Homo sapiens: one gene and its partners. The gene in region 4 interacts genetically with the main gene of each other region. Each region holds a gene or a part of one and is shown on either strand. Other genes may lie near its edges.

Region 1 (4,566 bases), on a different chromosome or scaffold from region 4:
CCAAGTTCTAGAATTGCAAAAACTTCATTGTTGCCACTGAGAGAGCAACATATAGTACAGCTTCTTGTCTATTCACACCAGGACACCAAGGTACCTCATAGTGCAGTGTGTACACACAACCTGATTTTAATATTCTATCTGCTGCAGAAATACTTATCAGCTTTCAAATCAAAGTGAAAAGAAAATGAGTTAATTTAAATGGCAAATTCAAGGACATTTATACAAACATTATATTCTTAATTTTGGCAATAATTTTTAATATTTTGCCTTAAAGTCCTGGGAACAAAGGGCTCTTGCTATCCATTCATTTCATTAGGTGAACTGAAGATATGAGTGGGAGAAGTTATTCTGGATCACAGACACACATTAGCATGGAAATAATGATGTACGGAAGAGTCTTTTTCATTTACTAATTTTACTAATTTATTCTTTGACATACACCAATGTATGATATTGAAAAACAGAAAGCAGGTCATAAAGATGGTCCTGTCCGATAAAGGAAATCTTTTAAAACACTTTCAAAAGCTAAAATAACTAAAACTATTAAGCCTATTGATAGCTAAGAAAATAATTGTCTTCAATAATATTAGGTGGAACCATATGAAACTGCTGACAGTTTTTAAACTACAAATGCAGCAATTTCATATGTTTCAGCCTAATCCATGGGGTTGTACTGATCTTTCTGACCATTCTCGGCTGAAAATTGACATGGTCAAAGTCCTTGCCCTTCAGTATATGCATCGTATTAGCCCTTTCATGGAAGTATATCTACATAAATATATATGTATATATAGTGGGCCAATGTAAGCAAACACAAGGTATCACACCAAATCTATTCTTGAGAAAACCATTCCTATTTCAAACTTAATGTTTAAAAGAATCATATATTGATTTTGATTTACTCCAGGACTGTGGGGGATGGGGAGTGGCCATTTCTTTATATTTCTTCTAAGTTGTGATCTCTGTGTTGACTATAACCATACTAAATATGCTATATTCTTATTTGGCCTAAAATTTATTAGATTTTCCTTGATTGATCACGAATAAGTAAAATTGGCAAAGCTTCTTTCAGAGTCAAATCCTGCTTTCACAAACTGAAAGGAAATAATTTACTACATCTGAGATAGAGCCTTTTTCAAATCTGAGAAATCTGAACCAAATAGAATGCTTTATTTTCCAAAGAAAAAAATCAAGATGAAATACAAACAAGTGAACTAAAAGCCATATGAAATACCCTCTCTTTAGACAGACCCAATTTCTTCATATATTCAGTTAAACCCAAAAGCTAATCCATTAAGTTGTACTATTTTCTTCAGATAAATGTAATTCAGTGATAGCAGAGCTCTGCAAAATTTGAAAGCTCACCTCTCTGTGTAGTGGGGAATGGAAGAAATTAACTAGTATATAATCCAGAAATGACACAGGGCATTTAAAGTAAAATTAAAGGACACATTTACAAAATAGAAAACACTAATATAATTAACCAACAAAAATATACTGCAGTTCCGATGAAATGAGGTCAACATGACATGATCCTTTTGGAATGACTTTCTAATTTGAATTACAATGTGAGTGAAGTATTTTAGAAGACATTCTATCAAATAATGATAGACCTGCATAAGGAGGCTGTCACAGAAGATCTGTCTCTGGTGGACAGACAAACCAGATTAACATGAAATTGTAAAGGAAAAAGCTTTTTTATACTTATTATTATGGCTTTTTGCAACATGGCAAAACATTACAGCTTAAAGCAGACATCATCTCCTCTTAGAGGAGGAAAAAGTTTTGCAGTCAAATCAAATTATAATTAAGAGGTCATCGCTATACAATTCTATTCAGTTTAACAAAAACGATATTACACCTTCATGAAATCCAGAGATAATAGGTTACTTAAAAACATAAACAAAAAACTGGTGGATACACTGGCTGAATTAATAAAGGATATGATAAGGAATTTAGGTCCACCTATACCTATGATAATAAACATAAAAGACTGCAAAACAATTTAAGAACTTAATCACAGACCTACTAATCAAAGTTCATCATGTGCCTGATTACCAGAAAAGGAATTATTAAGGTATACAGTGAAGGGAATGGAGCAGAATAAAATATAAAATGTCTTTTTATTCCTCTCTGATTTCAACTTCCTTTTTATCTTTAGGGAGGATAGGGAGAAGATGTGCCTCGCTATTGAAGATCCAATGCTCCAGTGGAAGAAGATCGTCGTCAGAAAATATTAGGTACAAATATCTGGTGAGAGAAACATAAGTATATGAGGCCCAAGACACTAGGCAGGCAGTGAAACCACAAACACACAGCAAAAACCACATCAATGTCTGCATTCATCTTACCAAGAAACATGGACAAGAGTCAAATATATCAAAACCCTGAGGGGTTATACTCATTAACATGGGGTAAAGCAGCTACTCAGTGCTTTGGTGTTAGCAGTACCAAGTCACTGAACCTAGTTATTGAGAATATACCTGCAATTATAGCCATGCCTGATATTCTGAATCAGGCATACTTGATATTACTTGAATGTGTTCATGATAAAGACATCTACAAAGATCTGTTCAGGTACCTTAGCCACATGGTTTTAGAATAATTTTCACCTACTTCAATGTCTCTGCCAGGAAGAAACTCTGCTGCACATCATCATAACTCTCATGAAGAAGGTAAACATCCCTTAGGCCTGAATAGCCTCCATTCACTCTGCAATGGTTTTCCAAGGCCTAAATTATAGAGGAGGAAAAAAAAAAGTCACATTTCAGTAAACTGATTGTCACTAATTTTTATTATTAGATTGTCAAGTTCAGATAAAACATTTTTTTTTTTTGAGACAGGGCCTCACTCTGTTGCCTGGGCGGAGTACAGTGGCACCATCATGGGTCACTGCAGCTTCTACCTCTTGGGCTCAGGTGATTCTCCTGCCTCAGCCTCCCAAGTAGCTGGGACCACAGGCATTCGCCACCATGCCTGGCTAATTTTTTGTATTTTTTGTAGAGATAGGGTTTTGCCATGTTGCCCATGGTTGTCTCAAACTCCTGGGCTCAAGCGATCTGCTTGCCTCGGCCTCCCAAAGAGTTGGGATTACAGCCATGAGCCACTGTGCCCAGTCAAAATTTATTTTTTACAAATTGGATTCAAATTAAATGAAAGTTTGTTATAGAGTTTTAGGTAAAAAAAAATTAAAACCATAAACTAAATGTAAATTAAAAATGAAGTCATAGAACATATGGACCACATATCTTACCTAATTTGAAACACTTCTGCCTTTAGTTTTGGAAAAATTTTTCACTGATTTTTACCAATTCCCCCTATGGTCTGGAGCAGGGTTTAGCAAAGTATGAACTATAGGCTAAATCCAGTCCACTGTTTATTTTTGTAAATAAACTTTTATTAAACCACAGCCATGTTGTTTAAATATTGTCTGTGGCTGTTTTTGTACTACAATGACAGAGCTAAGTAGATGCAAAAGAGACTAGCTGGCTGTCCCCCAAGCCTGATATTGTCTGGCCCTTAACAGAAAGAGTTTGCTGACCCCTAGTTTGGAGAGACTGCTAATGTCAACTGGGATCATAAACCACTGGTTGAGAAACCGTACTGGAACAAAATCAGCTGCTTCTATAATCAGAGTATCTGAGTTTCTGAAAATTGATTGTAGGGTACTCATCAGTGATATTGGTAACAGAGCTAAAAGAAGAAAATGAAAGACAGTGAGAGACATGTGGCTGGGATCTATTCCTAAAATACATGTTTTTTTTTTTTTTCAGTCTAGTATGGAAGAAGATGGGATGACTCCACTGACAACTCTCTAGAGAGAAATGATCCTACATTTCTGTAGTTGTCTGAATTTAATGAATATTTGGAAAACAGATGGGTTGGGCAGTGTGAGGATGAACATTTAGGTAACAACCTAAACCAACCTGCCTTCCACTTTGTTGGTTACCACTAAGATGGCTGCTGTTTGTGTTTTCTTTTTCCCTTTCAGAGCCCACTTTCTTTCTTTTGTTTGTTTCTATTTTTCTTTAACCTTTTTCCAGCTTTACCGATGTATGACAAATACAAATAGTATATACTGGAAGGTGTACAGTGTGATGTTTTGATATACACTACTTCTGTGGATATACACCATCTTCTGTGGTGGATATACATCATCTTCTGATGTGGATACACATCATCTTCTGTGGATATACACCAAGAATTAGGATTGCTGGATCATATGGTAGCTCTATTTTTAATTTTTTGAGAAACCTCCATACTGTTTTCCATAATGGCTATATCAATTTTCATTGCCACCAACAGTGTACAAAGGTTCCCTTTATTCTGCATCCTCACTAAGACTGATTACCTCTTGAATTTTTGATAATAGCCATTTAAAAAGGTATGAGGTGATATCTCACTGTGGTTCTAATCTGCATTTCCCTGATGATTTGTGATGTTGAGCATCTTTTCACTACTGGCCATCTGTACGTCTTCTTTGGAAAAATGTCTCTTCAGGTCCTTTGCCTATTTTGAAATCAGGTTGTTTTTCTGCTACTGAATTGTAAGTTCCTTATATATTTT
Region 2 (4,566 bases), on a different chromosome or scaffold from region 4:
TTTTTAGTAGAGACGGGGTTTCACCATGTTAGCCAGGATGGTCTCAATCTCCTGACCTTGTGATCCGCCAGCCTTGGCCTCCCAAAGTGCTGGGATTACAGGCCTGAGCCACCGTGCCAGGCCTAATTTTTTTTTTTGTGTGTGGGGAAGGACAGAGTCTCGCTCTGTTGCCAGTCTCGCTCTGTTGCCATGGCGTGATCTCAGCTCACTGCAACCTCCACCTCCTGGGTTCAAGCGATTCTACTGACTCAGCCTCCTGAGTAGCTTGGATTACAGGTGCCCGCCACCATGCCCGGCTAATTTTTTATATTTTTAGTAGAGATGGGGTTTCATCATGTTAGCCAGGATGGTCTCAATCACCTGACCTCGTGATCTGCCTGCCTCAGCCTCCCAAAGTGCTGGGATTACAGGCGTGAGCCACCGTGCCCGACCCTAATTTTTGTATTTTTAGTAGAGATGGACTTTCACCATGTTGGCCAGGCTGACCTTGAACTCCTGGCCTCAGGTGATCTGCTCACCTCAGCCTCCCAAAGTGCTGGATTACAGGCATGAGCCACCATGCACAGCTAAGATTGTCTTTTTCTTGACTTAAAGAATTATGGACAGTAAACCTTTGCCTGTTTATATGTGCTGCAAATGTTTTTTCCTGGTCTGCCTTTTATGTTTTATACTTGTTAATGAAATCTTCCACCAACTGGCAATTTTCAACTGGTCAAATTTGTAAATTTTATCCTCCCTTTTTGGCCTCTGGTTTCAAGTATATTAAAAAGTCTTTCCCTATCTTTGTGATTATAAACATATTTTTCTGGCGGGGTGCAGTGGCTCACACCTGTAATCCCAGCACTTTGGGAGGCCAAGGTGGGTGGATAGCTTGAGGTCAGGAGTTCAAGACCAGCCTGGCCAACATGGCGAAACCCCATCTCTACTAAAATACAAAAATTAGCTGGGTGTGGTAGGCCTGTAATCCCAGCAACTTGGGAGGCTGAGGCAGGAGAATCGCTTGAACCCGGGAGGTGGAGGTTGCAGTGAGCTGGGATTGCGCCCCTCCACTCCAGCCTGGCAACAGAGCAAGACTGTCTCAAAAAACAAACAAACAAAAATATTTCTCTATTTAGTAGTTTCATAATTTTTTTGTCATTTACATATTTAATCCACTGGAAATGTATTTTTATATAATATGGTATAGAGATATAGCTTTTTTTTCCCCACAAAGTAAAGAAGTAATTAACCAAAAGCTGGTTATTTAGGTCAACTATTTCTCCCCAGTGATCTAAAATACCATCTTTGCTATATACTGAATTCCATAAACTCCTGGGTCTGTTTCTGGACAACCTATTTTTATTTCTTCTTTTACATTACATACCATAATTCTTCATTTATTTTCATTTTTTATTATTTCTTCTTTTACAGACAACCTATTATTATTGTTACTATTTTTTTTTTTGTGCTGTCCAGGAAACAATCCCAGGTCACAAGAATGGGAACTTATTATTTTTTTAAAAGTTGATTTATGTCTTTATTCTTGTGCAAGGACCAAACTGTTAGGTTTTTTTTTTTTTTTTTTGAGGTGGAGTCTCGCTCTGTCACCCAGGCTGAAGTGTAGTGGCGTGGTCTCGGCTCACTGCAAGCTCTGCCTCCCGGGTTCACGCCATTCTCCTGCCTCAGCCTCCCGAGTAGCTGGGACTACAGGTGCCCGCCACCACGCCCGGCTAATTTTTTGTATTTTTAGTAGAGACGGGGTTTCACCTTGTTAGCCAGGATGGTCTCGATCTAAACTGTTAGTTTTGTCACTTAATTCTGCTACTTTATAATTGCAAAGTAGGATCCTATTAATTAATTCTGTAAGTTTATGTATGTTTTCTTATTCTCAAGCGCTAACTCTTCCAAGTAAGTTCCAAATAATTTTAGAACATCCCAAACCATAAACAAAAATATCCAATGAAGGCAACTAAATTGAAATCTAAATAAAATAAAATCAACATCATTATAATAAAGAGTCTTCTCATCCAAGAAAATCTCATCCATCTATTCGGTCCCTGTTTTATATCCTTTAAGTAAAACTGTATTTTTCTCATTTATATCTTGCATATTTCTTGTTAGGTCAACTTATTAAATTTTAAATGCTACTTTATATTTCTTTTTTGGCCTCGTTTTGTTTTATTATTTATTTGGTTGTCTGTTTTACTTCCAGCAAAGACTTCAAAAATGTGATTTTCAAGGAAGAAAGTAGTGAAGAAATTACATACAGTACCTTTTCTAAAGCAATATGTAGTTCTTTTTCATATTCTGGTGGCAATCTCAGGAGTAGAACCTGGCAGGCATCTTTAATCAGTGGAACAACACTGAGAAATATTAATATAGCAATAAAAAGAGAACAGAGTGGGTCAGCGATGAACCATCCAAACTGCTCTATAAGAACTGTGGATACGATCACACCAATGCTGCCAAGTGTATCTGCCAAAACATGTAGAAATACACCTACAAATAAAATATATAAGGACATTAAAAATTAAGGCACATCTAATTTAGTTTTTTAATACATTCTACTAATATTACTGGATACCTACTGTGCACCACATACTCTGCTACTGGCTAGTACTTCAAAATGCCTAAAACATGGTCACTGCCCTCAAGGAATTCAGAATACAGTGGTAAAAATATAAGGACATAGGCACTCATGACACAGCGTGCCAAATTTTATGGTGTACTTTGTCTGGAAAGGCTTCCCAAAAATCATACTTGAGGCAAGTTTTGACATTACCCACATTACTTATATTAAGCAATCAGAATAAACAATTCAGCAAAATAAATGATTAGTACTTCCTCCATTTTTTTTATAGTGCAATAAAAATTTCTAAAAAAGGAGTAAGAATTTCCTTTTTGTAATGAAGGTTCATAATAGCACACTGTGTTTACCTTGCAACTAATATCTATTCAGCTGTCACTATGAAAAGGACTATATAATTATAATCATTTAAAAACTAACATTTAAGAACAAATATATTTTCATTTTCTTTTTGTTTTGGATAGAGTCTCACTCTGTTGCCCAGGCTGGAGTAAAGTGGCGTAATCTTGGCTCACTGCAACCTCCATCTCCCAGGTTCAAGTGATTCTCGTGTCTCAGCCTCCTGAGTAGCTGAGACTACAGGCGCCTGCCACCACACCTGGCTAAGTTATGTATTTTTAGTAGAGACAGGGTTTCACCATGTTGGAGAGACTGGTCTCGAACTCCTGACCTCAGGTGATCCACCCACCTTGGCCTCCCAAAGTGCTAGGATTACAGATGTGAGCCACTGTTCCCAGCCTCATTTTCTTTTTAAAAAATTTTCTGTGACGGCCAGGCATGGTGGCTCACACCTGTAAGCGATTCTTCTGCCTCGGCCTCCTGAGTAGCTGGGATTACAAGCACCTGCCACCATGTCCGGCTAATTTTTGTATTTTTAGTAGGCACAGGGTTTCACCATATTGGCCAGGCTGGTCTTGAACTCCTGTCCTCAGGTGGTACTCCCGCCTCAGCCTCCCAAATTGCTGGGATTAACAGGCGTGAACCACCATGCTCCCAGCCAGAATGTCCCTCTTTTTAAAGGCTGAATAATATTTAATTTTATGTGTATTCAGGTAAGAATATTTTCTATAGTGATAGCTTCAGACCTTTCTTTTAGTCACAGATTGCTTTTTAAAAATCATATCATACCAGAAGCCCAAAACTTAATACAAATAAACACAGAGGGTTGATTTAGAACACAGTTGAAAAGTAGGATAATATTTTGCAAGGACTCACCCCTCATGTTAGCATTCATGCCTCCACCCGCAGATCCGTGGCTGTGACCATGCCCATGGTCACTGTGTCCATGCATATGGTGTGAATGGCTGTGATCAGATGAGTGACAGCTTCCTTGAGAAGCTCCATGGGCATGGCTATGGGCATGGCTAAAGGCACAGATACCAATAAGGTTTACTATCAGCCCTCCAACTGAGACTGGCTAGCAAAAGGGAGAAAAAAAACCTTTAAATTAGTAATTTAAAAATAGACTTGTTATTTAAAAGTTATTATATAGCTATATATGTTTTTCTGTTTACAGTTTTGAAAGTATTCACAGTAAAACCTTACTAAGTTTCAGTAAGTCCAAAATTTTAAAAATGTGAATTTTAGAACATTTTAGAAGAAACATTTTAACTTTCAAATATCAAGCAGAATTGGTAAGTAGAGGAATTTGGACTTATTTCAATTAAGAATGGTATGTACTTGGTTTATGGTTTATGTATAAATAAATGATGCAAAGTTTTGTTTTGTTTATTGAAGAGTTTGAAAGTACTGCTTACTAGGGCAAGTATACACTGTACCTGAAATCTTTATATTGCTAGGTAAATTTGAACAGTTTATATGCCAACAATTATAATTTATTAATGAGCAGATTCCAAATATGGTCTTATTATGTCTTAAACACAGTAAAATTTTCCAAAGTAAAACAAGTATAATAAAAAGGAAACATACAATAGTAATCTCGCATTTATTTAAATTAAAAACAAATTTTTTTCTTTGGTAGAGACAGGGTCTATGTTGCC
Region 3 (3,363 bases), on a different chromosome or scaffold from region 4:
TCTGATTGGCTTCCTATTCTGATTTTTTTTTTCCTTTCCCCGCCCTCGTTAGTTTGTCCAACCGGTGGGACATAATCTGCCCCATTCCCCCGGATGAGCCCCGGGGAGAGTAAGAGGAGTGCGGCGTCACGAGGAATCAGAGGAGAGGAGGGTGGGTCCCTTCAAGCCTAGTCTCGTTTGCTGGAATGTGGGAAAGGGAATAGAAATGAGCGCTGACGTGCCTAGATTTGCCCAGGCCACGACAGTACCTGTGAGCATCTGCCCAGGTCTAGGCGACCTTCAGCCTCTGACCCTTGGGATAATATGGACCAAGGAAATCCTTGGCCAATTCAGTGTTTTGAAAATTTAAAAGTAAACCCTATAGCAATCCACTAGGGGGCATGGAACTCTCAAGATTACTCCTAGGATTTTTTTTTGCTGCCAAAGCCCCAACACAAATCTCCGAGAAACTGGATTTGCTGTAAATTAAATTGCCCTTTAAATCGACTATGAACAGTAGCTGAAATCAAAAATTTTAATCATACAGGCCTATATTTTACAGTGTGCACATTTCACATAACATAACCACCAGCCAGGATTTATCTAGGCCAGGGTCCAAATACTTTCTGTAGAAGGCCAGAATGGAAACAGTTCCAGTTTGGGGGGACCATACAACTTGTCTCAAATAGTCAACTCTGCAGCTGTTGCATACAAAAGCTAAAGGAATGGCGGTGGCTGTGTCCCAATAAAAAGATACAGACATTGAAATTTTAATTTCATACAATTTTTTGTGTCCAAAAATAGCATTCTTTAAATATTTTTTCCAACCATTTAAATATGTAAAAACCTTTCTTTGCTCACAGGCCATACAAACACAGGCAGCAGGCCCGATTTGACCCACAAGGCATAGTTTACCATCTCTAGTGTACACTAACATAAACTGCTCTACTTTTCCAAAGAAGTACGCTTTAGGACAGAGGAGGATGAACGAGTATGTCGGGGAGTGGGGGGGCGCGGAGCTTCATGATACCCTCAATCAGTCACCACAAGCTAGACAGTTTACAAAGGTCTGCTTTATCACTGAATTGATAAAATACACATTATTTTTTATTTATTTATTTATTTTTTTGAGACGGAGTCTCGCTCTGTCGCCCAGGCTGGAGTGCAATGGTGCGATCTCCGCTCACTGCAAACTCCGCCTCCTGGGTTCACGCTATTCTCCTGCCTCAGCCTCCCCAGTCGCTGGGACTACAGGCGCCTGCCACCACGCCCAGCTAATTTTTTGTATTTTTAGTAGAGACGGGGTTTCACCGTGTTAGCCAGGATGGTCTCGATCTCCTGACCTTGTGATCCGCCCGCCTCGGCCTCCCAAAGTGCTGGGATTACAGGCGTGAGCCACCGTACCCGGCCATCATTAATTTTTATTAAGGTTACTGTATTGCTTACCATATACAATTGCTACTTAAATTCTCTAATCTTTCTGCCTGAATTCTTTAAATAAAGTTAACACTGCTTGGTATAACCCCAGCACAACACAGGATAATGCTCCCAGTACTCCCAGTGACACAAACCTGCTAGAGAAAGGAAAACGATTATCCATGATAGTATGAGGCAGGAATAAAATTAGGCCATCTTGCCATAGCAGGCGGTCTTCTTTTGGTTCTATGACACAGAAGGTGGCTTGATCACAGCACAATTTCTTTATCCCAACTTCCTAGCAATCAAAGAGTTTTTCTCTTGGTGGAGCACAGGGGCTCACACTTGGAATCCCAGCACGTTGGGAGGCTGAGGTAGGAGAATTTCCTGAGCCCAGGAGTTTGAGACCAGCCTGGGCAACATGATGAGACCTTAACTCTACAAAAATTTTGAAAACTAGCTGAGCACGGTGGTGCAACCCTGTGGTCCCAAGCTACTTGGGAGGCTGAGATGGGAGGATCACTTAAGCCCAGGAGGTCAAGGCTGCAGTGACCTATGTTCATACCACTGCACTCCAGCCTGGGCGACAGAGTGAGACCAACTCAAAAAACAAACAAACAAACAAACAAACAAACTTTCTCTCTCGAGTCCAGTGATTCTCCCTCAACGCTCAAGACTCCAGCATGAACTGTTAGGCATTGGGTTTTTCTGTGTTTACAGCAGACCATGGTAAAAAGAAGTCCCAAGTCACAGCCAGAACGCCAAAGTAAGATCTGTTGAGTGCTAGGCTCATGGACTGAGCCTAATCTTATTTTCCACTCTGCCTCAAACAAAACAACTCATTTGCCCATACAACCCATGGCATCCTTTCACAGTAACAAGGACAACAGGACACCTCCAGTACTTTTTATTTTTTTTGAGATGGGAGTCACCCAGGCTGGAGTGCAGTGGCGCGATCTCGGCTCACTGCAACCTCCGCTTCCCCGATTCAAGCGATTCTCCTGCTTCAGCCTCCTGAGTAGCTGGGATTAAAGGTGCGTCCCACCGTGCCTGGCTAATTTTTGTATTTTTAGTAGAGACGGAGCTCTGCCATGTTGGTCAGGCTGGCCTTGAACTCCTGACCTCATGACCCGCCCGCCTTGGCCTCCCAAAGCGCTAGGATTACAGACGTGAGCCACCGCGCCCGGCAATATCTCCAATACTTTAATACTTGGTTGAAAAGAACCCATTGCACTGTTTCCCACTGTTTGTCCCAGTACTTTAGTTTTATGATCTCATTTGGGTTTTTGTAAAAGCAGTCTTCCTACAAGCCTAGTAAAGGAAATTCTTTCTTTCTCATTTTGCCAAATGTAGCATTTAATTGATTTTTTTTTTTTTTTTTTTTTTGAGCTAGAGAGAGTCTTGCTCTGTCACCCAGGCAGGAGTACAGTGGCATGATCTCGGCTCACTTCAATCTCCACCTCCTAGTTCAAGCGATTCTCCGCCTCAGCCTCCAGAGTAGCTGGGAGCTACTCCATGTACCACAATGCCCAGCTAATTTTTTTGTATTTTAGTAGTGATGGGGTTTCACCCTGTTCCCCAGGCTGGTCTCAAACTCCTGAGCTCAGACAATCCACCCACCTCAGCCTCCCAAAGTGCTAGGATTACAGCGTGAGCCACCACACCTGGCCAATTCTAATTCTGTGTAAAATGAGTGAAACACAGCTAAACTAGAACTAGTCCTTGCTAGCATGTTAATATAGATTTTGCTCAAACATCTGCCATCCCCATCCTGTTGCAGAGATGACCAACAACCCTGGGTCCACAGCATGTTCCAAATCTCTCAAGTAGTACTAAATCTATTACTTCTAGTACCCCAGCCTTTTTCCCCCTCCTGGTGGCAAAATTCAAGTATCTCACACGCACCCTAAATGTCTCTTCCTCTATGCAGGGAACTTTTGGTTGCCTCCCCAAATAAACGGCATTGTT
Region 4 (4,566 bases):
TTATTGCACTACTACGTTACAAGGGCTACAATAAACATTGCCAGACAATAGGAATTTTTTAGCTCCCATTATAATCCTATAAGACCACCATTATATATGTGATCCGTTGTTGACCAAAACATCAATATGCAGTAAATGACTGTATATCCAATTAATGGCACTCTAATAACTTTACCAAAGGAACTCAGTTGTCGTATTTTAGATAATTCATGTGAATTATGAGGTTAGTTATTTGAATGTGTGGGTTCCCTTACTGTTTATGAAGCCACTATTGCTCCCAGTTATGTGATTTTAAAACCCCATTTGCCAATCCCCACTAACCAAAAGAATCAAACTACTGTACAGTTGTCCCTTGGTATCTGTGGGGAAATGATTCCAGGATCCACCCCACCCCACCCCCACCCCCACCCATCGGGATACCAAAACCCATACATGTTCAAGTCCTTGATAGAAAATGGCATAGCATTTGCTTATTACCCATGCACATCCTCCCATACACTTTAAACCATCTCTAAATTACTTACAATACCTACTATAATGTAAATGCTAACAGCTGCTATACTGTACTGTTTAGGGAATTATAAGAAAAAAAGGTCTGTACATATTCAATACAGACGCAATTTTTTTCTGAGGTTTTTTTGAGATCACTGCTATTTATAGATATAGAAACTGAGGCACAGAGATGTTAAGTAACTTGCCCAATACCACACAGCTAGCAAATGGCAGAACCTGGAGGCCAACCCAAGCAGTGTGGCTGCAGAGGCTGAGCTCATAACCATTGTTACATTGCAAGTACACTACTTGCATCTATAGGGGATTCATAAAATCTTTCTTATCTCAACAAAAGTGAGGTGGCTTAATAAAAATAAATGTGTGCGGGTGCCACATTAAGTGCATATATGTGATGTTTCTCTCTCTCTTTTTTTTTTAAGACACAGTCTCACTCCGTCACCCAGGCTGGAGTGCAATGGCGTGATCTCGGCTCCCTGCAACCTCTGCCTCGTGGGTTCAAGTGATTCTCCTGCCTCAGCCTCCTGCGTAGCTGGGACTACTGGCATGTGCCACCACACTCAGCTAATTTTTGTATTTTTTTTTTTTTAGTAGAGATGGGGTTTCACCATGTTGGCCAGGATGGTCTTGAACTCCTGACCTCACATGATCCGCCTGCCTCAGCCTCCCAAAGTGCTGGGATTATAGGCATGCGCCATCACCCCCAGCCTTTTCTGAGTATTTTTAATCTTTGGTTGGTTGAATCCACAGACATGGAACTCATGAATACTGAGGGCTGATTGTATATATTTGAATACCAGTAATTCTTACTACTGCAATTCTATGTTCCAGCCACAGCAACCTTTTAAAGGTGTTCCTCAAACAGGCCAAGCTCATCACTGCACCTCAAGACCTTTGCCTTAGAATGCAGATCATTCAGGTCTCAGCTCCAATGCCACCTCAGGCCTCCCAAACCAACCTAAGAAAAATGCCCTTCCTCCATTCCTCTCTGCACATCCAGAGACAAAGTCTTGAGATGGTACAAGAGACACTCTGATTGGCTATGAGACTGAAATTTTAATTTGGAATAACCAGACTTTTAAGAAAAGCCCAGGAAAGCTATAGGATCTGGCTGAAATGTCAACATGAGGAAGAAAAAGAACATTCAACAAAAAATAGTCAAAAGCAGTTTTTTGGGGAAAAATTATTTTCTGTTGTAAATAAGTGAGTAAAATAGTGGCTCCACCTTCCGAACACTTTTTTTTTTTGAGACAGGGTCTCACTCTGTCGTCCAGGCTAGAGTGCAGCAGCATAAACATTGCTCACTGCAGCCTTGATCTGTGCTCAAGCAATCCTCCTGCCTCAGCCTCCCATGTAGCTGAGATTACAGGCATGCACTAACATGCCTGGATAATTATTAAATTTTTTGTAGAGATGAGGTCTTACTATGTTGCCCAGACTGGTCTTGAACTCCTGGGCTCAAGCGATCTTCCCACCTGGGCTTCTCAAAGTGCTGCAATTACAGGCGTGAGCCTCCGCATCCGGCCTTGAACATTCTTATCACGTTGTTTTCGCTACCGCCCTAATTACCAGTAAAAACTATGCAAGTGTATTCTTTATGTCTTTAGTGTCAGTATTCATCCATCAGGATATAAGCCCCAAAGTCTAAGAACTTTGTCATATTCACTATTGTATCACTGATACTTTTTTTTTTTTTTTTTTTTTGAGACAGGGTCTTGCTTTGTCGCCCAGTCTGGAGTGCAGTGGTGCGATCTCAATTCACTGCAGCCTCAACCTCCTGGGCTCAAGCAAGCCTCCCAACTCAGCTTCCTGAGTAGCTAGAACTAAAACCGTACACCACCACCCCCAGGTATTTATTTTTTATTTTTTGTAGAGACGAGTTTCACCATGCTGTTCAGGGTGGGCTAAAATTCCTGGGCTCAGGTAATCCACCCACCTCAATCTCCCAAAGTGCTTGGATTACAGGTGTGAGCCACTGTGCCCAGCCTGAAATTTAAAATGGTATCCAGTACAGCATAAATGCTCAGATTTTTATGGAATGAACAAACCACAGCTACACAGATCAATTACCTTTGATATTATTTGTATGTACTCCATGGATTTGACCAATGTTTTCTAATTTTTATTTTTGTAGAGGTGGTAGGTCTTGCTATGCTGCCCAATCTAGTCTCCAACTCCTGGCCTCAAATGATCCTCCTGCCTCTGCTTTCCAAAGTGTTGGGCATGAGCCACTGCATCCAGCCTCTGACCAAAGTTTTAACCTGAGCTGTATCCTGCTTTTTGTTTGTTTTTTTTTGTTTGTTTTTGTACAAATGGGGTTGCCCAGGCTGGTATCAAACTCCTGGCCTCAAGCAATACTCTCACCTTGGCCTCCCAAATCACTGGGATTACAGGTGTGAGTTACTGCACCCAGCCCTGCTTTCCTTACAGAGCATATGAGGCATCTATTTCCTCCACCTACTAACCAAGGCAGGAGGCAAATGGCTCTTACTGACAACTGGGTTCACCAGGACACTAAGCAAAATATTTATTAAGAGAAACCTCAAGTAGGGGTGGTAGCTCACGCCAGTAATCCCAGCACTTTGGAAGGACAGGGCAGATTGCTTGAGCCCAGGAATTCCAGACTAGCCTGGACAACATGGCAAAACCCTGTCTCTAAACATTTTTTTAAATGAGCTGGGAATGCTGGTGTTGCACCTGTGGGAGGATGAGGTGGGAGGATTACCTGAGCCTGAGGAGGTCAAGGCTGTAGGGAGCTGTGACTGCGCCACTGTACTCCAGACTGGGGGACAGAGTGAGACCCTGTCTCAACAGAAAAGAAAAGAGAAGAGAAGAGAAGACGAGAAGAGAAGAGAAGAGAAAAGAAAAACCTCTCTGGCTGACTAGCTCTTTTGCTCATTCCTGTAATCCCAGCACTTTGGGAGGCCTACGCAGGAAGATCACTGGAGCTCAGGAGTGGAGACCAGTCTGGGCAATATGGTGAGATCCCATCTCTATAAAAAATTAGCCAGACCTAGGGTGGTATGTGCCTGTAGTCTCAGCCACTCAGGAGGCTAAAGTGGGAGGATCGCTTGATCCTGGGAGATCAAGACTGCAGTGAGCCATGATCATGCCACTGCACTGCAGCTTGTGTGAGAGTGAGACCTCCTCTCAAAACAAACAAAAACAAAAACAAAACCTCTCTTTTTACTAGAAAGATGCCTAGTATCCTCTTTCTACCTTCCAGCAGTCTAAAATTCCCCTCCTCTAATCTACTGAAAAATGACTGATCAAAATTTACCCTGAGCTGCCACTTCCTTTTAGAAGTTTTAATTAACATACATCACCTCCAGATTATGGTAATTGTTCAATCATTTATTTTCATAGAACATGAAAGATTCTACCATTTACATGTATCACAAAGTTTTACAGTTACTGATTAGTCCACTATTCCCTCTCCCATTCCTACCCATGACCAACACAGACACCCTTGAAATTTGTTTCCTCCCTAGGCTGTGTCGAATGCAACCATCTCTCTAGGACAGTACACTGAAGGAGGGGAAGGCCGCTCTAAGGCCCATGTCCCTCTTAGATATACGTTTCAAGAGGGCAATTTCTATCAACCCAATGAAAAATTGACAAGTTCTTAATAAGGTTCTCATTTATGTTTAACTAGACATATTAAAAAGAATTCTCTGGTTATGCACCTTAACCACATTCACCGATGATATTCAAATCTTCGTATCACATCCATATTCCTTGCCAAGCATGATCCTGACTCTGTGCTTTCACACTGGCTGTTCCCTCTACAAGGAACTCTTCTAAATATGTACATGACTTGCTCCCTTGCTTCATTCTGGTTTTACCTCAACTATTATCTCCTCAGAGGCATTCCCTCACTATCTTATCAAAAATAAGCCAGCTGTGATGGCTCATGCCTGTAATCCCAGCACTTTGGGAGGCTGAGGTGGGAGGATCACTTAAGGTCAGGAGTTCAACACTAGCCTGGCCAACATGGTGAAACCCCATCTCTACTAAAAATGCAAAAATCAGCCGAGCATGGTGGTGGTCACCGGT
Region 5 (4,566 bases), on a different chromosome or scaffold from region 4:
GCATGTGCAGGCGGCAGCCACGGGCCCCGTGATGGCCAGCACTGACCACCGCTTCCAGAGGAGGGCCCGGGAGTACCTCGGGTGCACTGCAGGCCATAGGTGGGGATGCTGAGCCGGGAGGCCAGGCTGTGGAACACGGTGGTGGAGCCCTCGATTGGGTGCACCAGGAACAGGGGCCGCTCCGAGCTCTGCACGGAGTTGAGCCGCATCAGGGTGGGGCCCTCCGGGTTCACCAGCAGGGAGCGCAGGTTCAGCTGAGTCTGCTGCTGGGCCAGACCATCCTCCTTGGGCGTGGGGCATGCCAGCTCTGTGAAGACAGGGGCAGATGCCAGGCTGGTCTGGGTGCAGAGCCCTGGCACCCACGCAAGGACACACAGACACGCACGCAGGTCCCCACGGTGCTACGTCAGGTGGGAGTCGGGGTGGGAACGCTCAGAATGGCACCCGTGACGAAGGGCGGTATGCCTGCCGGGACACGGTCCAGACAACAAGGAGGAAGGGCTGGGGAGGCCCGGGGACCCCACTCCCGCCTGGCCACCCACACGCACCGCTGGCCTCATCCGCCTTTGAGGACAGCTCCTGCAGTTTCCGGAGCGTGAGTTGCCGCACCTCGCGCACGGACAGCACCAGGTTGAGCTCACGCTCCAGCGTCTGGCGCACCTCCACGCTCATGAGCGAGTCCAGGCCCAGGTCCGCCAGTGAGCTGTCCAGGTTGACAGCAGCCAAGTCGCGGATGCCTGGAAGGGATGCGCCGGGTCGGCAACTCCAGAGGGGGCATGGGGACGGCCTGTATGCGGCAGGGCTGACACCCAGGGGTGCGTGGGCTGTGCATCTCCCAAAGCACCACCACCACAGTGACACCTGCGCCCGCACCCTGGCTCTGCAGATGGGGAAACTGAGGCGCACAGGGGCACGACTGCTATGTCCCAAGACCCTGATGCCAGCAGGGGAAACACCTGGCGCGGCTCCTACTGGGAGTGCTCACCCAGGATGTGTGCCACGGCCTCCACCAGGTCCCGCTGGCTGTCCCTGTCCCTATAGGCCGCAGCCTTCTCAGCCAGCACAAAGCTGCTCAGGACCATGTGGGGCTGGTTCAGGAAGAGGTCCAGCACCTCCAGGCAGGACGCCATGCGCTGGGGCAGCGTGCCACTGACGATCGTGTCGTTGGTGCTCATCGTCTCCACCAAAATGCCCACGTCGCCGATGGCGCCCCACTGCACGGCCAGGCCTGTGGGGGAGGGGGCAGGTGGGCAGAGCTGCGGGGAGGTCGGGGTGGGGAGTGGCCACTGGGAGAGGGTGGGGTGGGCAGGGCTGCGGGGAGAAGGTGGGGGTGGGGAGTGGCCACTGGGAGAGGGCAGGGTGGGCAGGGTCGAGGGGAGAGGGTGGGGCCCACCTGGGAGGCCTTCGTGCCGGCGTTTCTCACAGATACGCTCCATGGCGGAATTGGCAAAGCCGTAGTTGCTCTGTCCCGCATTGCCACGCCCGCAGCTCACAGAGGAGAAGACCACAAAGTAGTCCAGCTCAGGGCACGCCTCTCGGGTCACCCTGTGGGCACGCGTGTCACTCCCCATTGGCCAGCATCCCCAGGAGCCCCCAACGTCCCATCCCCAGGAAACGCCAGAGAGGGCTGTCAACAAACCACCTTGGCTCCCACGGCCCTGAGCCCAGAGCCCGGCAGAGGCGGGAGCAGGGCTGTGCGGTACCCACCTGTCCAGGTTCAGGGTGCCGCTGTACTTGGGCTTGCAGACGTCCTGGAAGAACTCTGGGGTCTGGTTCTCCAGCAAGCCATCTCTCAAGACCTGGGGGAGGCATCCTCAGCACTCCCTGCAGCTCCAGGGCCTCACCCGTCCACCCAGGGTCCCCCCCTTGGTCTTGGGGCTTTTGAGGGCCCCATTTGGGGCCTTCCCTCACCACGGCCAGGTTGAAGACGCCGCCCACGGGCCCAAGCTGCGCCGCCTCGGCAATGAGGCCCCGGGCCCCCTCCAGTGAGCTGATGTTGCTGGTGGACACCTGCACCTGTACGCCCTGGCGCCTCCACCGGCGGACCTGCTTGGCCTGGTAGCCTGCGGGACACAGGACTGTGGGCTGGACTGGGCCAGGGTACGGTCTCTTCCCTACACGCCGGGCTGGGGAAGTGGGGAGCAGCCGCAGAGCCCCATCCAGCAAGCCCCCCACAAGATGGAGGGGGACAGACCCCAGGCACCGTGACAGCCCACAATGGTGGGCTGCAGAGAAGGGCTCAGGGGCCCGGGGCTGTGCCTGGCCCAGGCTGGTCCACAAGCACCCCTGCCGACTCACCTGTCCGGATCCCGGAGCGAGAAGTCAACACGAGCTTCTGCACCCCACGCTGTATCAGCCACTGCGCCAACTCCAGGCCGAAGCCACCCAGACCACCAGCGATGATGTAGCTCTTGTGGGCCGGGCAGAAGGTCTTGGAGATGGCCGACATCAGCTTGGGTTTGGCCCCCTTCAGCACTGCCTCCGGCTCCTCCGCAAGCACCTGCGTCCAAGCAGCACCCACCGGCTCAGGCACTGCCTGGGGACCAGAGCCTGGGGTGCCCGAGGCGCCGGGACTCCTCCCCTCACCTGCACGACGACTTTGCCAATGTGCTTCCCTTGGGCCATGTAGCGGAAGGCGTCCTCCACCTGGGCCCCATGGAACACCGTGCACTTGAGGGGCCGTACCACCCCATCCCGGATGCCGGCCTGCACAAGCGCCCACACCTCCCGCCAGTCAGCACTGCTCTCGTTGAAGAACGCATCCAGTAGGACCCCGTGGAATGTCACGTTCTTCAGGAAGATAGCCATGCCTGCGGGCAGGGGCCGTGCTCACCCAGGGCCTTCCACAGGTCCACCCACACCCATCCATGCCCACCCCCGCCCAGGCGCTGCCGGCCTCACCGAGCGGGTGGTTCTGAGAAAGGTCGAATTTGCCAATTTCCAGGAAGCGACCGTGCGTAGCCAAGCACCTCACGCTGGCCTGCAGCTTCTCTTCCGCCAAGGAGTTCAAGACCAGGTCAACGCCTAGGGGGCCAGAGGGGCCAGACAATCACACCCACTGCAAGCCCAGCCACCACAGTCCAGAGGGCCAGACCCTGCTTCTCCCTGGGCCGGAGGCTAGGCAGGAGGCAGGTGGGGGCTGTGGGGGCCACTCACCCTTCCCGCCCGTGTGCCACAGCACATGCTGCTCGAAGGATGTGTCCCGGGAGTTGGCGAAGCTGGTGCTGTCGAGCTGGGGGAACCTGGCCTGGAGGTACGCCCGCTTCTCAGCCGACCCTGGTGAAGAGAGGAAGCGCGGCTGGTGAGCCAGGGCGGCGGGGCCAGGAGGGCAGCGGGAGGCACCGGGGGCGGGGCCTTACCCACGGTGGTGAAGACGCGGCAGCCCAGACTGAGGGCGATGGCGATGGCGGCCTGGCCCACGCCGCCCGAGCCCGAGTGGATGAGCAGCGTCTCCCCGGGGCGCACCCGCCCACGCACCACCAGCGCGTAGTAGGCCGTGCTGTAGACGACAGGCACCGAGGCCGCCTCCTCCAGCGTCCTGGGGATGCAGCAGGTGGGTCAGCACAGGCCTGGCCGCCATCCACGTGGGGCCCAGGCTCACACCCTCGACACACTCACCAGTTGGAAGGCACATCCCAGAGGAAGTCCGGTGACAGCAGGACAGAGGTGGCCAGGCCCTTGGCAGGCACCAGTCCCATCACACGCTTGCCGCTGGCGTCTCGGCCCGAGAACTCCATACCTAGCAGGCTGTCCTGGGAGGTCCACTTCCCTGGGGGAGACGGCACTGAGCCCCTCACCGCCTGCCCTTCCCTCCCGAGGGGCTCCCAGGCAGGTCCTAGCTGCTGGGGTCTCTGCTCCCCGGCCCAGTCCACTCCCACGGCCCCATGCCACCCATACCTGGGATGGCATCAGGGGACAGCTTGCCAGTGGCCAGCATGATGTCGCGGAAGTTGAGGGAGGCGTAGTAGACCGTGCAGAGCTGGGCGCCAGGGCAGGTGGGCTGGGCATGGCGCAGCGAGGAGCAGACCCAGCGGATGGAGGACAGGTCCCCCCGGGTGAGGGTGCTCACAAAGGCATGTGCCGTCGGCTCCTCAGGCTTGTCTAGGGAAACAGGGAGGTGGGGCTGCTGCGGGGCCTTCGGGTGCAGTCTCCCGGGAGGGGCAGGGCAGTGTCGGGGGCTCACCCTCCTCCAGCAGGAAGTGGCGGAAAGCCCCCCAGGCCCCGTCGCGGTAGACGTTCATCACCAGGTCTCCCTGCAACACCTTCTGCAGTTCTGCGGAGCCCGGGTCCACCTCCGGGACGTGGGAGGTGCTGCTGAGGTTGGAGAGCAGCACACACCTGGGGGCAGAGGCGGGGAGCTCAGGCTGGGGATGGGGAGGCTGGTGGGGAAGGGGAAGTGGTGAGGGGCCGTGCTCCTACCGGAGGCGGTTCCCGCCGGGCTCTCGGCGGAGACAGTTCACCAAGCCCACCACGCCCGAGGTGGCACAGTTGATGGCCTTCAGCCACACAGGCCGGGAAGAGTCTTCGTCAGCCAGGATGCCCTACAGCGGGTCGGGGAGGGTCAGG
Region 6 (4,566 bases), on a different chromosome or scaffold from region 4:
CCTTCTGGACATCACGACGCAGGTCACTCAGGAACCGCTCCTGGTCGTTCTCCACCTGCAGGCCCCCAGGTCCAGAGTCATGTCACTGACTAGACATAGCTCATCGTGCAGACAATCTCCCTGTACCCCTTCCACTCTACAAGGCCACCTAATTATCATCATCATAACAGTGAGGATGATAATGATGATGACAATAATAGCTTTTAAACACTTAGACTGCATGCCAGGTACCACACAGAGTGCTTTACATATAATTATTTAATTCTGTTGACAAATCCTACTTAAGTATTTTAACACCATTTTGCAGATGAAGGAACAAAAGAGGAAGTACTTAAGAAATTTATCCTAGGTCATGTAGCTAGTAAGTGGTGGGGCCAGAATATCAATGCAGGACTGATTCCAAGGCCCATGTTCCTAACTGCCACATTCTCGGGCTCACTTCTTCAGACTATGCAGTCTTCTCTTCCAACACTATTTCTTCTTTTTTGGAGACGGAGTCTTACTCTGTCGCTCTGGCTGGAGTGCAGTGGCGCAATCTCGGCTCACCACAACCTCCACCTCCCGGGTTCAAGGGATTCTTAGCTTCCTGAGTAGCTGGGATTACAGGCGCCCGCCACCACACCCGACTAATTTTTGTATTTTTCGTAGAGATGGGGTTTTGCCATGTTGGCCAGGCTGGTCTTGAACTCCTGACCTCAGGTGATCTGCCTGCCTCAGCCTCCCAAAGTGCTAGGATTACAGGTGTGAGGCACCGTGCCTGGCCCCAACACTATTTCTATTAATGAGTCAGCCACTGCATATATAAGCAGATATTCCCAGCCCTGCTGCCACCTGCTGCCCCAAATCCCACACCATACCTGAAAGGAAGCATATTTGTAGACAGAGCCACCAGTGAGCTGGGGCACAACAGAGAGTGTGGCCACATCCACATACTGGTTAGGGAAGAGAAAGAGATCTACACAGCAGCCTTGGGCCACACACTCTTTGGCCAGGGTCTGATAGGCACCTGTCTGAGGCTGGAACAGAGTCTAGGGGGAAAGAAAATGGGGAGAAGAAAATGTTCAAATATCTCAGCTCCGCCCTATTTGAAAACTGTATATCTAGCATGGGATATTCAAATTCATGGAAGACTTCAGATCTACTTCCAAGGATTTTCCAATAGTAAAAAATTTTCTTTTATATTATTTTTATTTTTTTGAGACAGGGTCTCACTCTGTCACCCAGGCTGGCATAGAGTGGCATGATCTCAGCTCACTGCAACCTCTGCCTCCCAGGTTCAAGCGATTCTCCTGCCTCAGACTCCCAAGTAGCTGGGATTACAGGTGTGTGCCACCACACCTGGCTAATTTTTGTATTTTTAGTAGAGACGGGGTTTTGCCATGTTAGTCAGGCTGGTCTCAAACTTCTGGCCTCAAAAATCTGCCCGCCTTGGCCTCCCAAAGCGCTCGGATTACAGGCATGAGCCATCATGCCCGGCCAAAAGTTCTTCTTTAAAAAATAAATAAATACAAGAGTCTACCAACAGCTTTGGCATCAGATGGAGTAGAGAAGTATGGCAGCAGTGGAGGTTGGCAGTCACAGATATGGTATTTGAAAGGGTGGAGTGTCTGGTCCTAGCCACCATCAAGAAAGTAGAGTCCCCACTTCCTCTGTAATGAAAAATCCTTCCCCTCCCCCATTTTCCAGTCCCACACCTTCTCCTTGTCTGTATTGATCAGCTTCCTGTCATCTCTGTTCTTCAGTTTCCCTGGGGCCTCTGCAATGGGCAGGGATGTATGGAATAGAAAGAGCTTCCCTGCACACTCAGCAGCCTAGGAAAAAAGAGAGGACTACTTGTTTATTCTTTATTCATCCATCTCTTCCCTTGTCATTTATTAAGCACCAGCTATGTCAGACAGTCTAACACACTGGACAGTCACCCACTACTGAAGAAAGAGAGGTTGTATCCCAGGGGATAAGATGGTCAGAGGAAAATGGAGTTAGAGGAGGTTGCCCGATACTCCAGCCTTACCTTCAGAGCCTCCATTCCAGCCTGGATAACTGGTACAAATACTGTCTCTGTTTCCCTTGTGTCTGCAAACATTTCTGGAATCTGATCCAATAAGCTAAAGAGATAGGTGACGGAAAACAACCAAAATTGCTATACAGATTCCAGATACCTCAGTTCTCGATTCCCTGAAGAGTCATCAAGCCTCTAGAATCTGACAACTCCTGGGCCACAACCCCTTTCCATCTACTGTCCAATACCTCTGTTCAACTCCATGACCTTCTATGGTGGTACCCATGCCACCCCCAACCTTTACCTCCACAATCTGGCTCTTACCTGGTGATAACTGCCCGAGACTCATTGACGTTGACCAGGAAGCCATCCAGCAGTGGCACAAACATGTCAGCCACATCAGACACAACCATCATCTGTGGCTGGGCCAATGAGCTCTTCACATTATAGAAGTGGAGCACCTTATTGTAGGTGACAAAGCCAACGCGGATTGCTGACTCTTCTGCCCCACCCTCCCTGTAGAAGGTGACATTGTTACCTAGACTTGCCACCTTTTCCACCACCCACAACTTCATGACACCAAGCTACATTTCTTCAGTCAACCCAGACACCCTATCATTAACCTCAGGAAACACCTCAGTTCTGTAACTCTCACCTAGGTAGAAAGTCTAACAGTGACTTGAGCTCCTCACAGAGGAGCCTAACAAGACCAGTCCTGATGGCATTGTAGGAGACGTCAATCATGAAGATAAAGGCAGGAGGGCTGGGGAACTTATTGTTCTGCAGAGGAAGAAAATGTTGGGGAGAGGGGGAATGGTAAGCAGGCCAGTTGACTATAGAGAAGTCAGCATCAAAAAGGGACAAAAAAGGGGTGAGGGAAATGATAACAGCCATTCTCAGCTGTCTCATTATCCTCCACTCACTGCTCCTCCCATGCTACCTTCCCTCACCTTGCAGTAATCTACAGTGGCCAAGAATTCATAAGAGCCCAGGGATAGCTCAGGGCGGTCATAAGCATCCACACGTTTGCCGGTATGATCCAGGTGCTGAAAATACTGGGGGGGAACTGTGGGAAGCATGGCAGTGTGTTACTCGAAGATCCAGTTTCAATCTTAGTATTCTGGCCCTAGCTGAGCTCACACCACTATCCCTCATTCCCATGTGCCCTACTTCCCCAGCTCCTGAAAGATGGACCCTCATCTCTCTAACTATTTAATAGAGAACAAGGAAGATACAATCAAGACCTTCCCCCAAATCCCAGCTTCCATGAACATACCATCATTGATACAGCTGCAAAAACAGCACTGGAAACGCCTCCCTCCTTCAATGAACTGCATGAAGGGACACATGTATGCTTTGCAGCGGTTGCAGCGCAAAGGGCCAGATTCCCCATGGTCCACAACATACGGTGAAGCCTAAGGCGCAAAGGGGAAGGGATCAGACATAAAGGAAAACCACAGTAGGTTCAGCCAGGAGATGAGGAAGAACAACCGGAGGAAGAAGGCGCATGGCGCAGATATTCTGTCTGCAGAGGGAGTAGGGAGCACAATGATGAAAGGGAGTAAAGACAAATCACAGGAAAATGTCCCTATGAGTAAAAATTATATAGTTCCCTCTTCCTACATCCCACCCCCAGAGCTGCATTTCTCACTGAAAGAGAAGAGGAAATGCAAAACCGGCCATATCAGACTAGGGGCTGCCATGGGCATATGAGGGAGAAAGCCAAGATTATCTAGGATTCTCCTTTCTGGCCCCATCTCTAATGCCCTTCACTCTTGCTCTAAGAATCTTGATTCCAGCTCCTTCCCTAACCAAATATCTGTAACACCTCCTCCCGTATCCCTGGGATTCTGTGCCAGTTACTGATGCCCCAGGCAAATGTCACCCTACACATAAGAGACCAGTGCCCAACTATCCCCAATGGGACCCAGATAGAAATAGACAAACACACAGAGAAAGACGGAGAGATAAGCAGAATATAAACTGAGCCTTTGGCTTCTAGTAACAGAGAACCCTATCGTAAGATAAGCAAGGCTGAATATGAGTATCCTACCAAGGCCTGGTGGAGCAGCTGCCTGGCTCGCTCTCTTCATGCTGGTATCAGGTACTGGGGTGACAGATCAGGTCCCAAAACAGGTGACAGAAGGATCACTGGATCCTAATCTACCTTTTCTCTTATATGCTGTTCTAACAGCACTAACCTGGGATGACAGGACAGTCAGGAAAACATGGAATGATGTCCTTCTCATCATCTGGAGATGACCATGATACGAGAGGTTCCTACATTCAGCTGTCTTCTCCCCTACAATTTGGCCCTACCTCTTGTTTTTTTTTTTTTTTTTGAGACAGAGTCTCGCTCTGTTGCCCAGGCTGGAGTGCAGTGGTGCAATCTCGCCTCACTGCAAGCTCTGCCTCCCGGGTTCACGCCATTCTCCTGCCTCAGTCTCCCAAGTAGCTGGGACTACAGGCGCCCGCCACCACGCCCGGCTAATTTTTTGTATTTTTCATAGAGACGGGGTTTCACCGTGTTAGCCAGGATGGTCTTGATCTCCTGTCCTCGTGATCCA
Region 7 (4,566 bases), on a different chromosome or scaffold from region 4:
TTATTTAAGAATTTATAGTACCTTAAAGCTTATTTGCCTAGCCAGTTCTTTGGCTTCTTGGTCAGCTTGGCTTGAATCGCTTCCAGATTTTAAAGGCAACAGGACATCCTTCATGGCAGAGCCACATCCTTCACAACAGAAATCTTGTGATCTAGTAGAAAAAGATTTTTTAAATGAAAATAAATAGTTAAATGTTTAATTCCCTCTCACTGAGACACTCAAATGCTCGATCATTAAACTTAAAAGAAAGGAACACTGGAAAATTCCACATCACATTTATCCACATGCTATGAATTAGAAAATTAATGTAATGATTATAGTCCTGAGACAAGTAAATGTTAGGCTGGCTTTAAAAAAATCCAGGGCTCAGATGCTATTTTTTCCAATAAACTATCTAAAGAAAAATAAGTTTTACATCTATACAATGAGAAAATTGTCTATTATACTGTCCTTGAGATCACATATAACAAACCTATTTTAAGGCTGTGAAAAAAGTCCTTTAACAAGATCAAATTATCTGTTAGCAGAAATATATATAAAGCAGTAAAGAAACTAATTAAACATAGAATTTACAGATATTTCTAGGGAAAAAAAAACCCCTCACAAATAGCAGTATAACTTGAAAGACTTGGGAGAACTTGCAGAAAATCCAAAGACTTAATTTATTGCTGATTATACATTAGGTAGAGACTCAGGATATGTCTGTTAACTAGATTATTTTCTAAAATATATTTGTTTTTCCATTTTTCCCTTTGTATTCCAGATATAGTCAAAACTTCCTTGAAGTTTACAAGAGTCCTCTGAGGATATGAATGACTGAAAGTAAACATGCATCATATATAAAACATATATTGTTACACTGTTAAACTTCCTTCTAAAAAATTGTTTTTCATAGTACTTCTAGTTCTATTAAAAAACCTTAGGTCTTGAAGAACATGCTATTTAAAATTATGAAATATCATATAAACAAAATATATGTAAAAGTAGCAATAATTTAGTTTTTCTGTTTGTTTGTTTGTTTGTTTGAGACAGGGTCTCCTCGTTCTATCACCCAGGCTGGAATGCAGTGGTGCAATCATGGCTTGCTGCAGCCTCAACCTCCCAGACCCCAGTGATCTTCCCACTTCAGCCTCCCAAGTAGCTAGGACCACAGGTGTGTGCCACCACACCCCGCTAATTTTTATTTTATTTTATTTTTTTTTTTTATTTCATTTTATTATTATTTTTTTTTTTGTAGAGACAGTGTCTCCCTGTGTTATCCAGATTGGTCCAGAACTCCTAGGCTCAAGCGATCCTCCTGCCTCAGCTTCCCAAAGTCCTGGGATTACAAGCATGAGCCACTGTGCCCAGCCTAATTTAGTATTTATTGATGAGTATTTCTTGTTTTACCAGAAGTGGCACTGTTGACCACACACCTTTGAGAATTGGTTATATACAAATTATTTGCTTCAAAATGTATTCACTTTTAACTGAGTCAGATGAACCTTAAGGGGAGTGTTTATTTTGAATGTATTAGTTTATCCACAATGGTAGCATGCTACCACGGTTGAATGCAAAAATCTTTGTTTTTTTTTTTTGAGACAAGGTCTCAACTCTGTCCCACAGGCTTGAGTGCAGTGGCACAATCATGGCTCACTGCAGTCTCAACCTCCCCAGGTCAAGCAATCCTTCCACCTCAGTCTCTAAGTAGCTGAGACTACAGGCACGTGCCACCACGCCCAGCTAATTTTTGTATTTTTTTGTAGAGCTGCAGTTTCGCCATTTTACCCAGGCTGGTCTCGAACTCCTGAACTCAAGCAATCCACCTGTCTTGGCCTGCCAAAGAGCTGGGATTACAAGTGTGAGCCACCATGCCCGGCCCAAAATCATTTTTTAAAAGGTTTCTATTATAGACTGAGAATCTAGAATATACAGTGAGAAGCCTAGAAGAACAAGAACTCCAGTTCTTTTTTTTTTTTTTTTACCTCGCACATGAAATCAACTGGATAAAGGCATCAAGATAAAAAAACCAACGTAGTAAATCGAATGAAAACAAATACTATGTATTCAAAGTACATAGTGTAATCTATGAAGAGCTGTATAAATAAAGTACATACCCATAGTTTGGAAATAAGGTTTAAAAAGAAAAGTTGCTTATAAGACCAAGAAGTCTACCAAATCTTCCAGATGCTAAAATCTAACTGATTTAGCAAATATCTGTAGAGGGCCTACTCTGGGGTGTGCTAGGGTAAAATATGATATAATTTAATTAACATAATATGTCTGAAGGGTGGTAGGCAGCAGACTCCAGAGCAGAAAAATTATCAACATCAAAAATTAGGTATCAGCACTACTCAAAGAGGGGCTACTCTGAATGGAAGGACTGATCTTGGTCATATAGACAAAAGTGCACCTGCACCTGAAAAAAACAGAGAAGGCATCACTTCTCTGTTTGTGATTGCCACTGGGCAATCACAACTTGATAAAATCTCTTTTGCTTTATTCCAGATCATTTATTAAGCACTTGCTATGAGCTAGATGCAAAGATGGATAAAGTGGATTACCTCTTGGCCCTCAAGAGGTTTGTAATCTTGTGGAAAGCTACAAATAATTGCTCTGGTTCTTTTCCATCTATAATGCCATAGTGGAAACAAATGACTGGTATTGTTTTCCAGGAGAATATATCTCCCACTGAATTTTTTAAAAATAGTGAAATAGTATCAACTACTTTTTAAGACTAGATAGCATTAAATAAATTACTTAGATTCTGGTCACTCCAAGGAAATTATTACAACTGAATTCCTAAAAGAGCAAAACTGAGATAAGATCCTGTAGCTACAGTCACTCAGAAAATAAGTCACATAGTAAGAGGTAGGCCCTACCTCCTAATAGCCATTACCCTGAATACTATTCAGACCTCAAGAAGAATGAAATGCAAAACTTACTTTTTGGCAAGTGCTCTTCTTTCCTCAGGAGTGTAATCTAGAGAACCTATGGCTCCCTCTCCTTTTGTTGGCATAAACCCAATGATGGCTAATAATGCTGTCCTTACTGAAATAAAAAAGTAAATATCAATCTAAATTGCTTTGTAAAAGCAACTGGGTTTATTCTGGAAAAAGAAAAAATCAGAGTATTATACTTCATAACTATGAATTGACTGAAGTTATGAGATTTATATTCACTATAAATTAACACTTACTACTCCACGAAGGCTGCCAAGTTTCAGGATGATGGCCTGAGATGCTCAAACAGATTTTCTTGCCCACTTCAAATCGACCATTAGCCTGAGGAATAAACAATGCATTTAGAAAATTAAATACATGTGCTTAATGTTTATACTTTCTGTAAAAATATACTATTTATATATAATAATTTTAGAGATTATCTTAAAAAGTTTGTTTTTTTTTTTTTTTTTTTTTTTTTTGAGATGGAGTCTCGCTCTGTCACCCAGGCTGGAGTGCAGTGGTGTGATATCAGCTCACTGCAAGATCCACCTCCCGGGTTCACGCCATTCTCCTGCCTCAGCCTCCCAAGTAGCTGGAACTACAGGCGCCTGCCACCAGGCCTGGCTAATGTTTTGTATTTTTAGTAGAGACGGGGTTTCACCGTGTTAGCCAGGATGGTCTCGATATCCTGACCTTGTGATCTGCCCACCTTGGCCTCCCAAAGTGCTGGGATTACAGGCATGAGCCACCGCGCCCGGCCAAAAAGATTTTTTTTTAAATGTAACCTCTCATGGGACACAGATTTTTTGTCCTTATAGACTCCAAAAATACTTGTTGGATGCTGAATAATAAAAGCTGTTTTTAGAAGGTGTTTTACAGCACCTTTTGAAACTGAGTTGCACAAGTGAAATCTAAATAATTAACATGTAAAGTTTTACTGGCCAGCGAAGTGGCTCACGCCTGTAATCCTAGCACTCTGGGAGACTGAGGCAGGAGGATCACTTGAGGCCAGGAGTTCAAGGCCAGCTTGAGCAACTTAGTGAGACACTGTCACCAAAAAAAGAAAAGAAAGAAAATTAGCCAGGAGTGGTGGCATGTGCCTCTAGTCCTACCTACTTGGGAGGCTAAGACAGGAAGATTACTTGAGCCCAGGAGTTCAAGGCCACAGTGAACTATGACTGCATTGCTGCATGCCAGCCTGGGTGACAGTGTGAGACCCTGTCCCCAAGAAAAGAAAAAAAAAGAGGAGAGGAGGGGAGGAGAGGGGGGGAGGGGGGAGGAGAGGGGATGGGGGAGGAGAGAGGGGAGGGGAGGGGGGAAGGGAGGGAAGTGGGGAGGGGAGGGGGGAAGGGATGGGGAGGGAAGAGGGGTGGGGAGGGGAAGGGGGAAGGAGAGGGGGGAAGGAGAGGGGAGGGGGAAGGGGAGGAGGGAAGGAGTGGGGGAGGGGAGGGGAGGGGAGAGGATTTACTAATGTCCTACCCTGTGCCTAGTATGGAGCTAGGCTCAGTTAAGAATCTAAAAGAGGCCAGGCATGGTGACTCATGTCTGTAATCCCAGCACTTGGGAGGCTAAGGTAGGAAGGTCACTTGAGGCCAGGAGTTTGAGACCAGCCTGGGCAACAAAGTGAAACCCTGTCTCTACA

Evidence for each region.
Region 1: changes in CUL5 (region 4) and MAN1A1 together harm fitness less than expected from each alone (positive genetic interaction), as found in Homo sapiens cells (one large-scale study listed by BioGRID).
Region 2: changes in CUL5 (region 4) and SLC30A5 together harm fitness more than expected from each alone (negative genetic interaction), as found in Homo sapiens cells (one large-scale study listed by BioGRID).
Region 3: changes in CUL5 (region 4) and SAR1A together harm fitness less than expected from each alone (positive genetic interaction), as found in Homo sapiens cells (one large-scale study listed by BioGRID).
Region 5: changes in CUL5 (region 4) and FASN together harm fitness more than expected from each alone (negative genetic interaction), as found in Homo sapiens cells (one large-scale study listed by BioGRID).
Region 6: changes in CUL5 (region 4) and SEC24C together harm fitness more than expected from each alone (negative genetic interaction), as found in Homo sapiens cells (one large-scale study listed by BioGRID).
Region 7: changes in CUL5 (region 4) and UBE2J1 together harm fitness less than expected from each alone (positive genetic interaction), as found in Homo sapiens cells (one large-scale study listed by BioGRID).

The regions. Positions count from the first base shown.
Region 1 is NC_000006.12:119,177,696-119,182,261, forward strand, and holds part of MAN1A1 (mannosyl-oligosaccharide 1,2-alpha-mannosidase IA), read right to left. Parts: intron 2,733-4,566; coding exon 2,617-2,732; intron 2,251-2,616; coding exon 2,124-2,250; 3' UTR 1-2,123. UniProt on the Homo sapiens protein: Involved in the maturation of Asn-linked oligosaccharides. Progressively trim alpha-1,2-linked mannose residues from Man(9)GlcNAc(2) to produce Man(5)GlcNAc(2).
Region 2 is NC_000005.10:69,121,111-69,125,676, reverse strand, and holds part of SLC30A5 (proton-coupled zinc antiporter SLC30A5), read right to left. Parts: intron 3,984-4,566; coding exon 3,782-3,983; intron 2,479-3,781; coding exon 2,252-2,478; intron 1-2,251. UniProt on the Homo sapiens protein: Together with SLC30A6 forms a functional proton-coupled zinc ion antiporter mediating zinc entry into the lumen of organelles along the secretory pathway.
Region 3 is NC_000010.11:70,146,789-70,150,151, forward strand, and holds the end of SAR1A (small COPII coat GTPase SAR1A), read right to left. Parts: 3' UTR 501-3,363; downstream 1-500. UniProt on the Homo sapiens protein: Small GTPase that cycles between an active GTP-bound and an inactive GDP-bound state and mainly functions in vesicle-mediated endoplasmic reticulum (ER) to Golgi transport.
Region 4 is NC_000011.10:108,015,038-108,019,603, reverse strand, and holds part of CUL5 (cullin-5), read right to left. Parts: intron 1-4,566. UniProt on the Homo sapiens protein: Core component of multiple cullin-5-RING E3 ubiquitin-protein ligase complexes (ECS complexes, also named CRL5 complexes), which mediate the ubiquitination and subsequent proteasomal degradation of target proteins.
Region 5 is NC_000017.11:82,080,616-82,085,181, forward strand, and holds part of FASN (fatty acid synthase), read right to left. Parts: intron 4,542-4,566; coding exon 4,420-4,541; intron 4,339-4,419; coding exon 4,184-4,338; intron 4,102-4,183; coding exon 3,898-4,101; intron 3,770-3,897; coding exon 3,619-3,769; intron 3,539-3,618; coding exon 3,360-3,538; intron 3,277-3,359; coding exon 3,157-3,276; intron 3,025-3,156; coding exon 2,902-3,024; intron 2,811-2,901; coding exon 2,587-2,810; intron 2,501-2,586; coding exon 2,299-2,500; intron 2,064-2,298; coding exon 1,912-2,063; intron 1,800-1,911; coding exon 1,708-1,799; intron 1,546-1,707; coding exon 1,394-1,545; intron 1,229-1,393; coding exon 986-1,228; intron 738-985; coding exon 549-737; intron 308-548; coding exon 77-307; intron 1-76. UniProt on the Homo sapiens protein: Fatty acid synthetase is a multifunctional enzyme that catalyzes the de novo biosynthesis of long-chain saturated fatty acids starting from acetyl-CoA and malonyl-CoA in the presence of NADPH.
Region 6 is NC_000010.11:73,764,299-73,768,864, reverse strand, and holds part of SEC24C (protein transport protein Sec24C), read right to left. Parts: intron 3,415-4,566; coding exon 3,276-3,414; intron 3,066-3,275; coding exon 2,950-3,065; intron 2,780-2,949; coding exon 2,655-2,779; intron 2,516-2,654; coding exon 2,324-2,515; intron 2,106-2,323; coding exon 2,012-2,105; intron 1,812-2,011; coding exon 1,695-1,811; intron 1,029-1,694; coding exon 858-1,028; intron 56-857; coding exon 1-55. UniProt on the Homo sapiens protein: Component of the coat protein complex II (COPII) which promotes the formation of transport vesicles from the endoplasmic reticulum (ER).
Region 7 is NC_000006.12:89,335,281-89,339,846, forward strand, and holds part of UBE2J1 (ubiquitin-conjugating enzyme E2 J1), read right to left. Parts: intron 3,264-4,566; coding exon 3,179-3,263; intron 3,031-3,178; coding exon 2,925-3,030; intron 152-2,924; coding exon 22-151; intron 1-21. UniProt on the Homo sapiens protein: Catalyzes the covalent attachment of ubiquitin to other proteins. Functions in the selective degradation of misfolded membrane proteins from the endoplasmic reticulum (ERAD) and is essential for cells to recover from ER stress.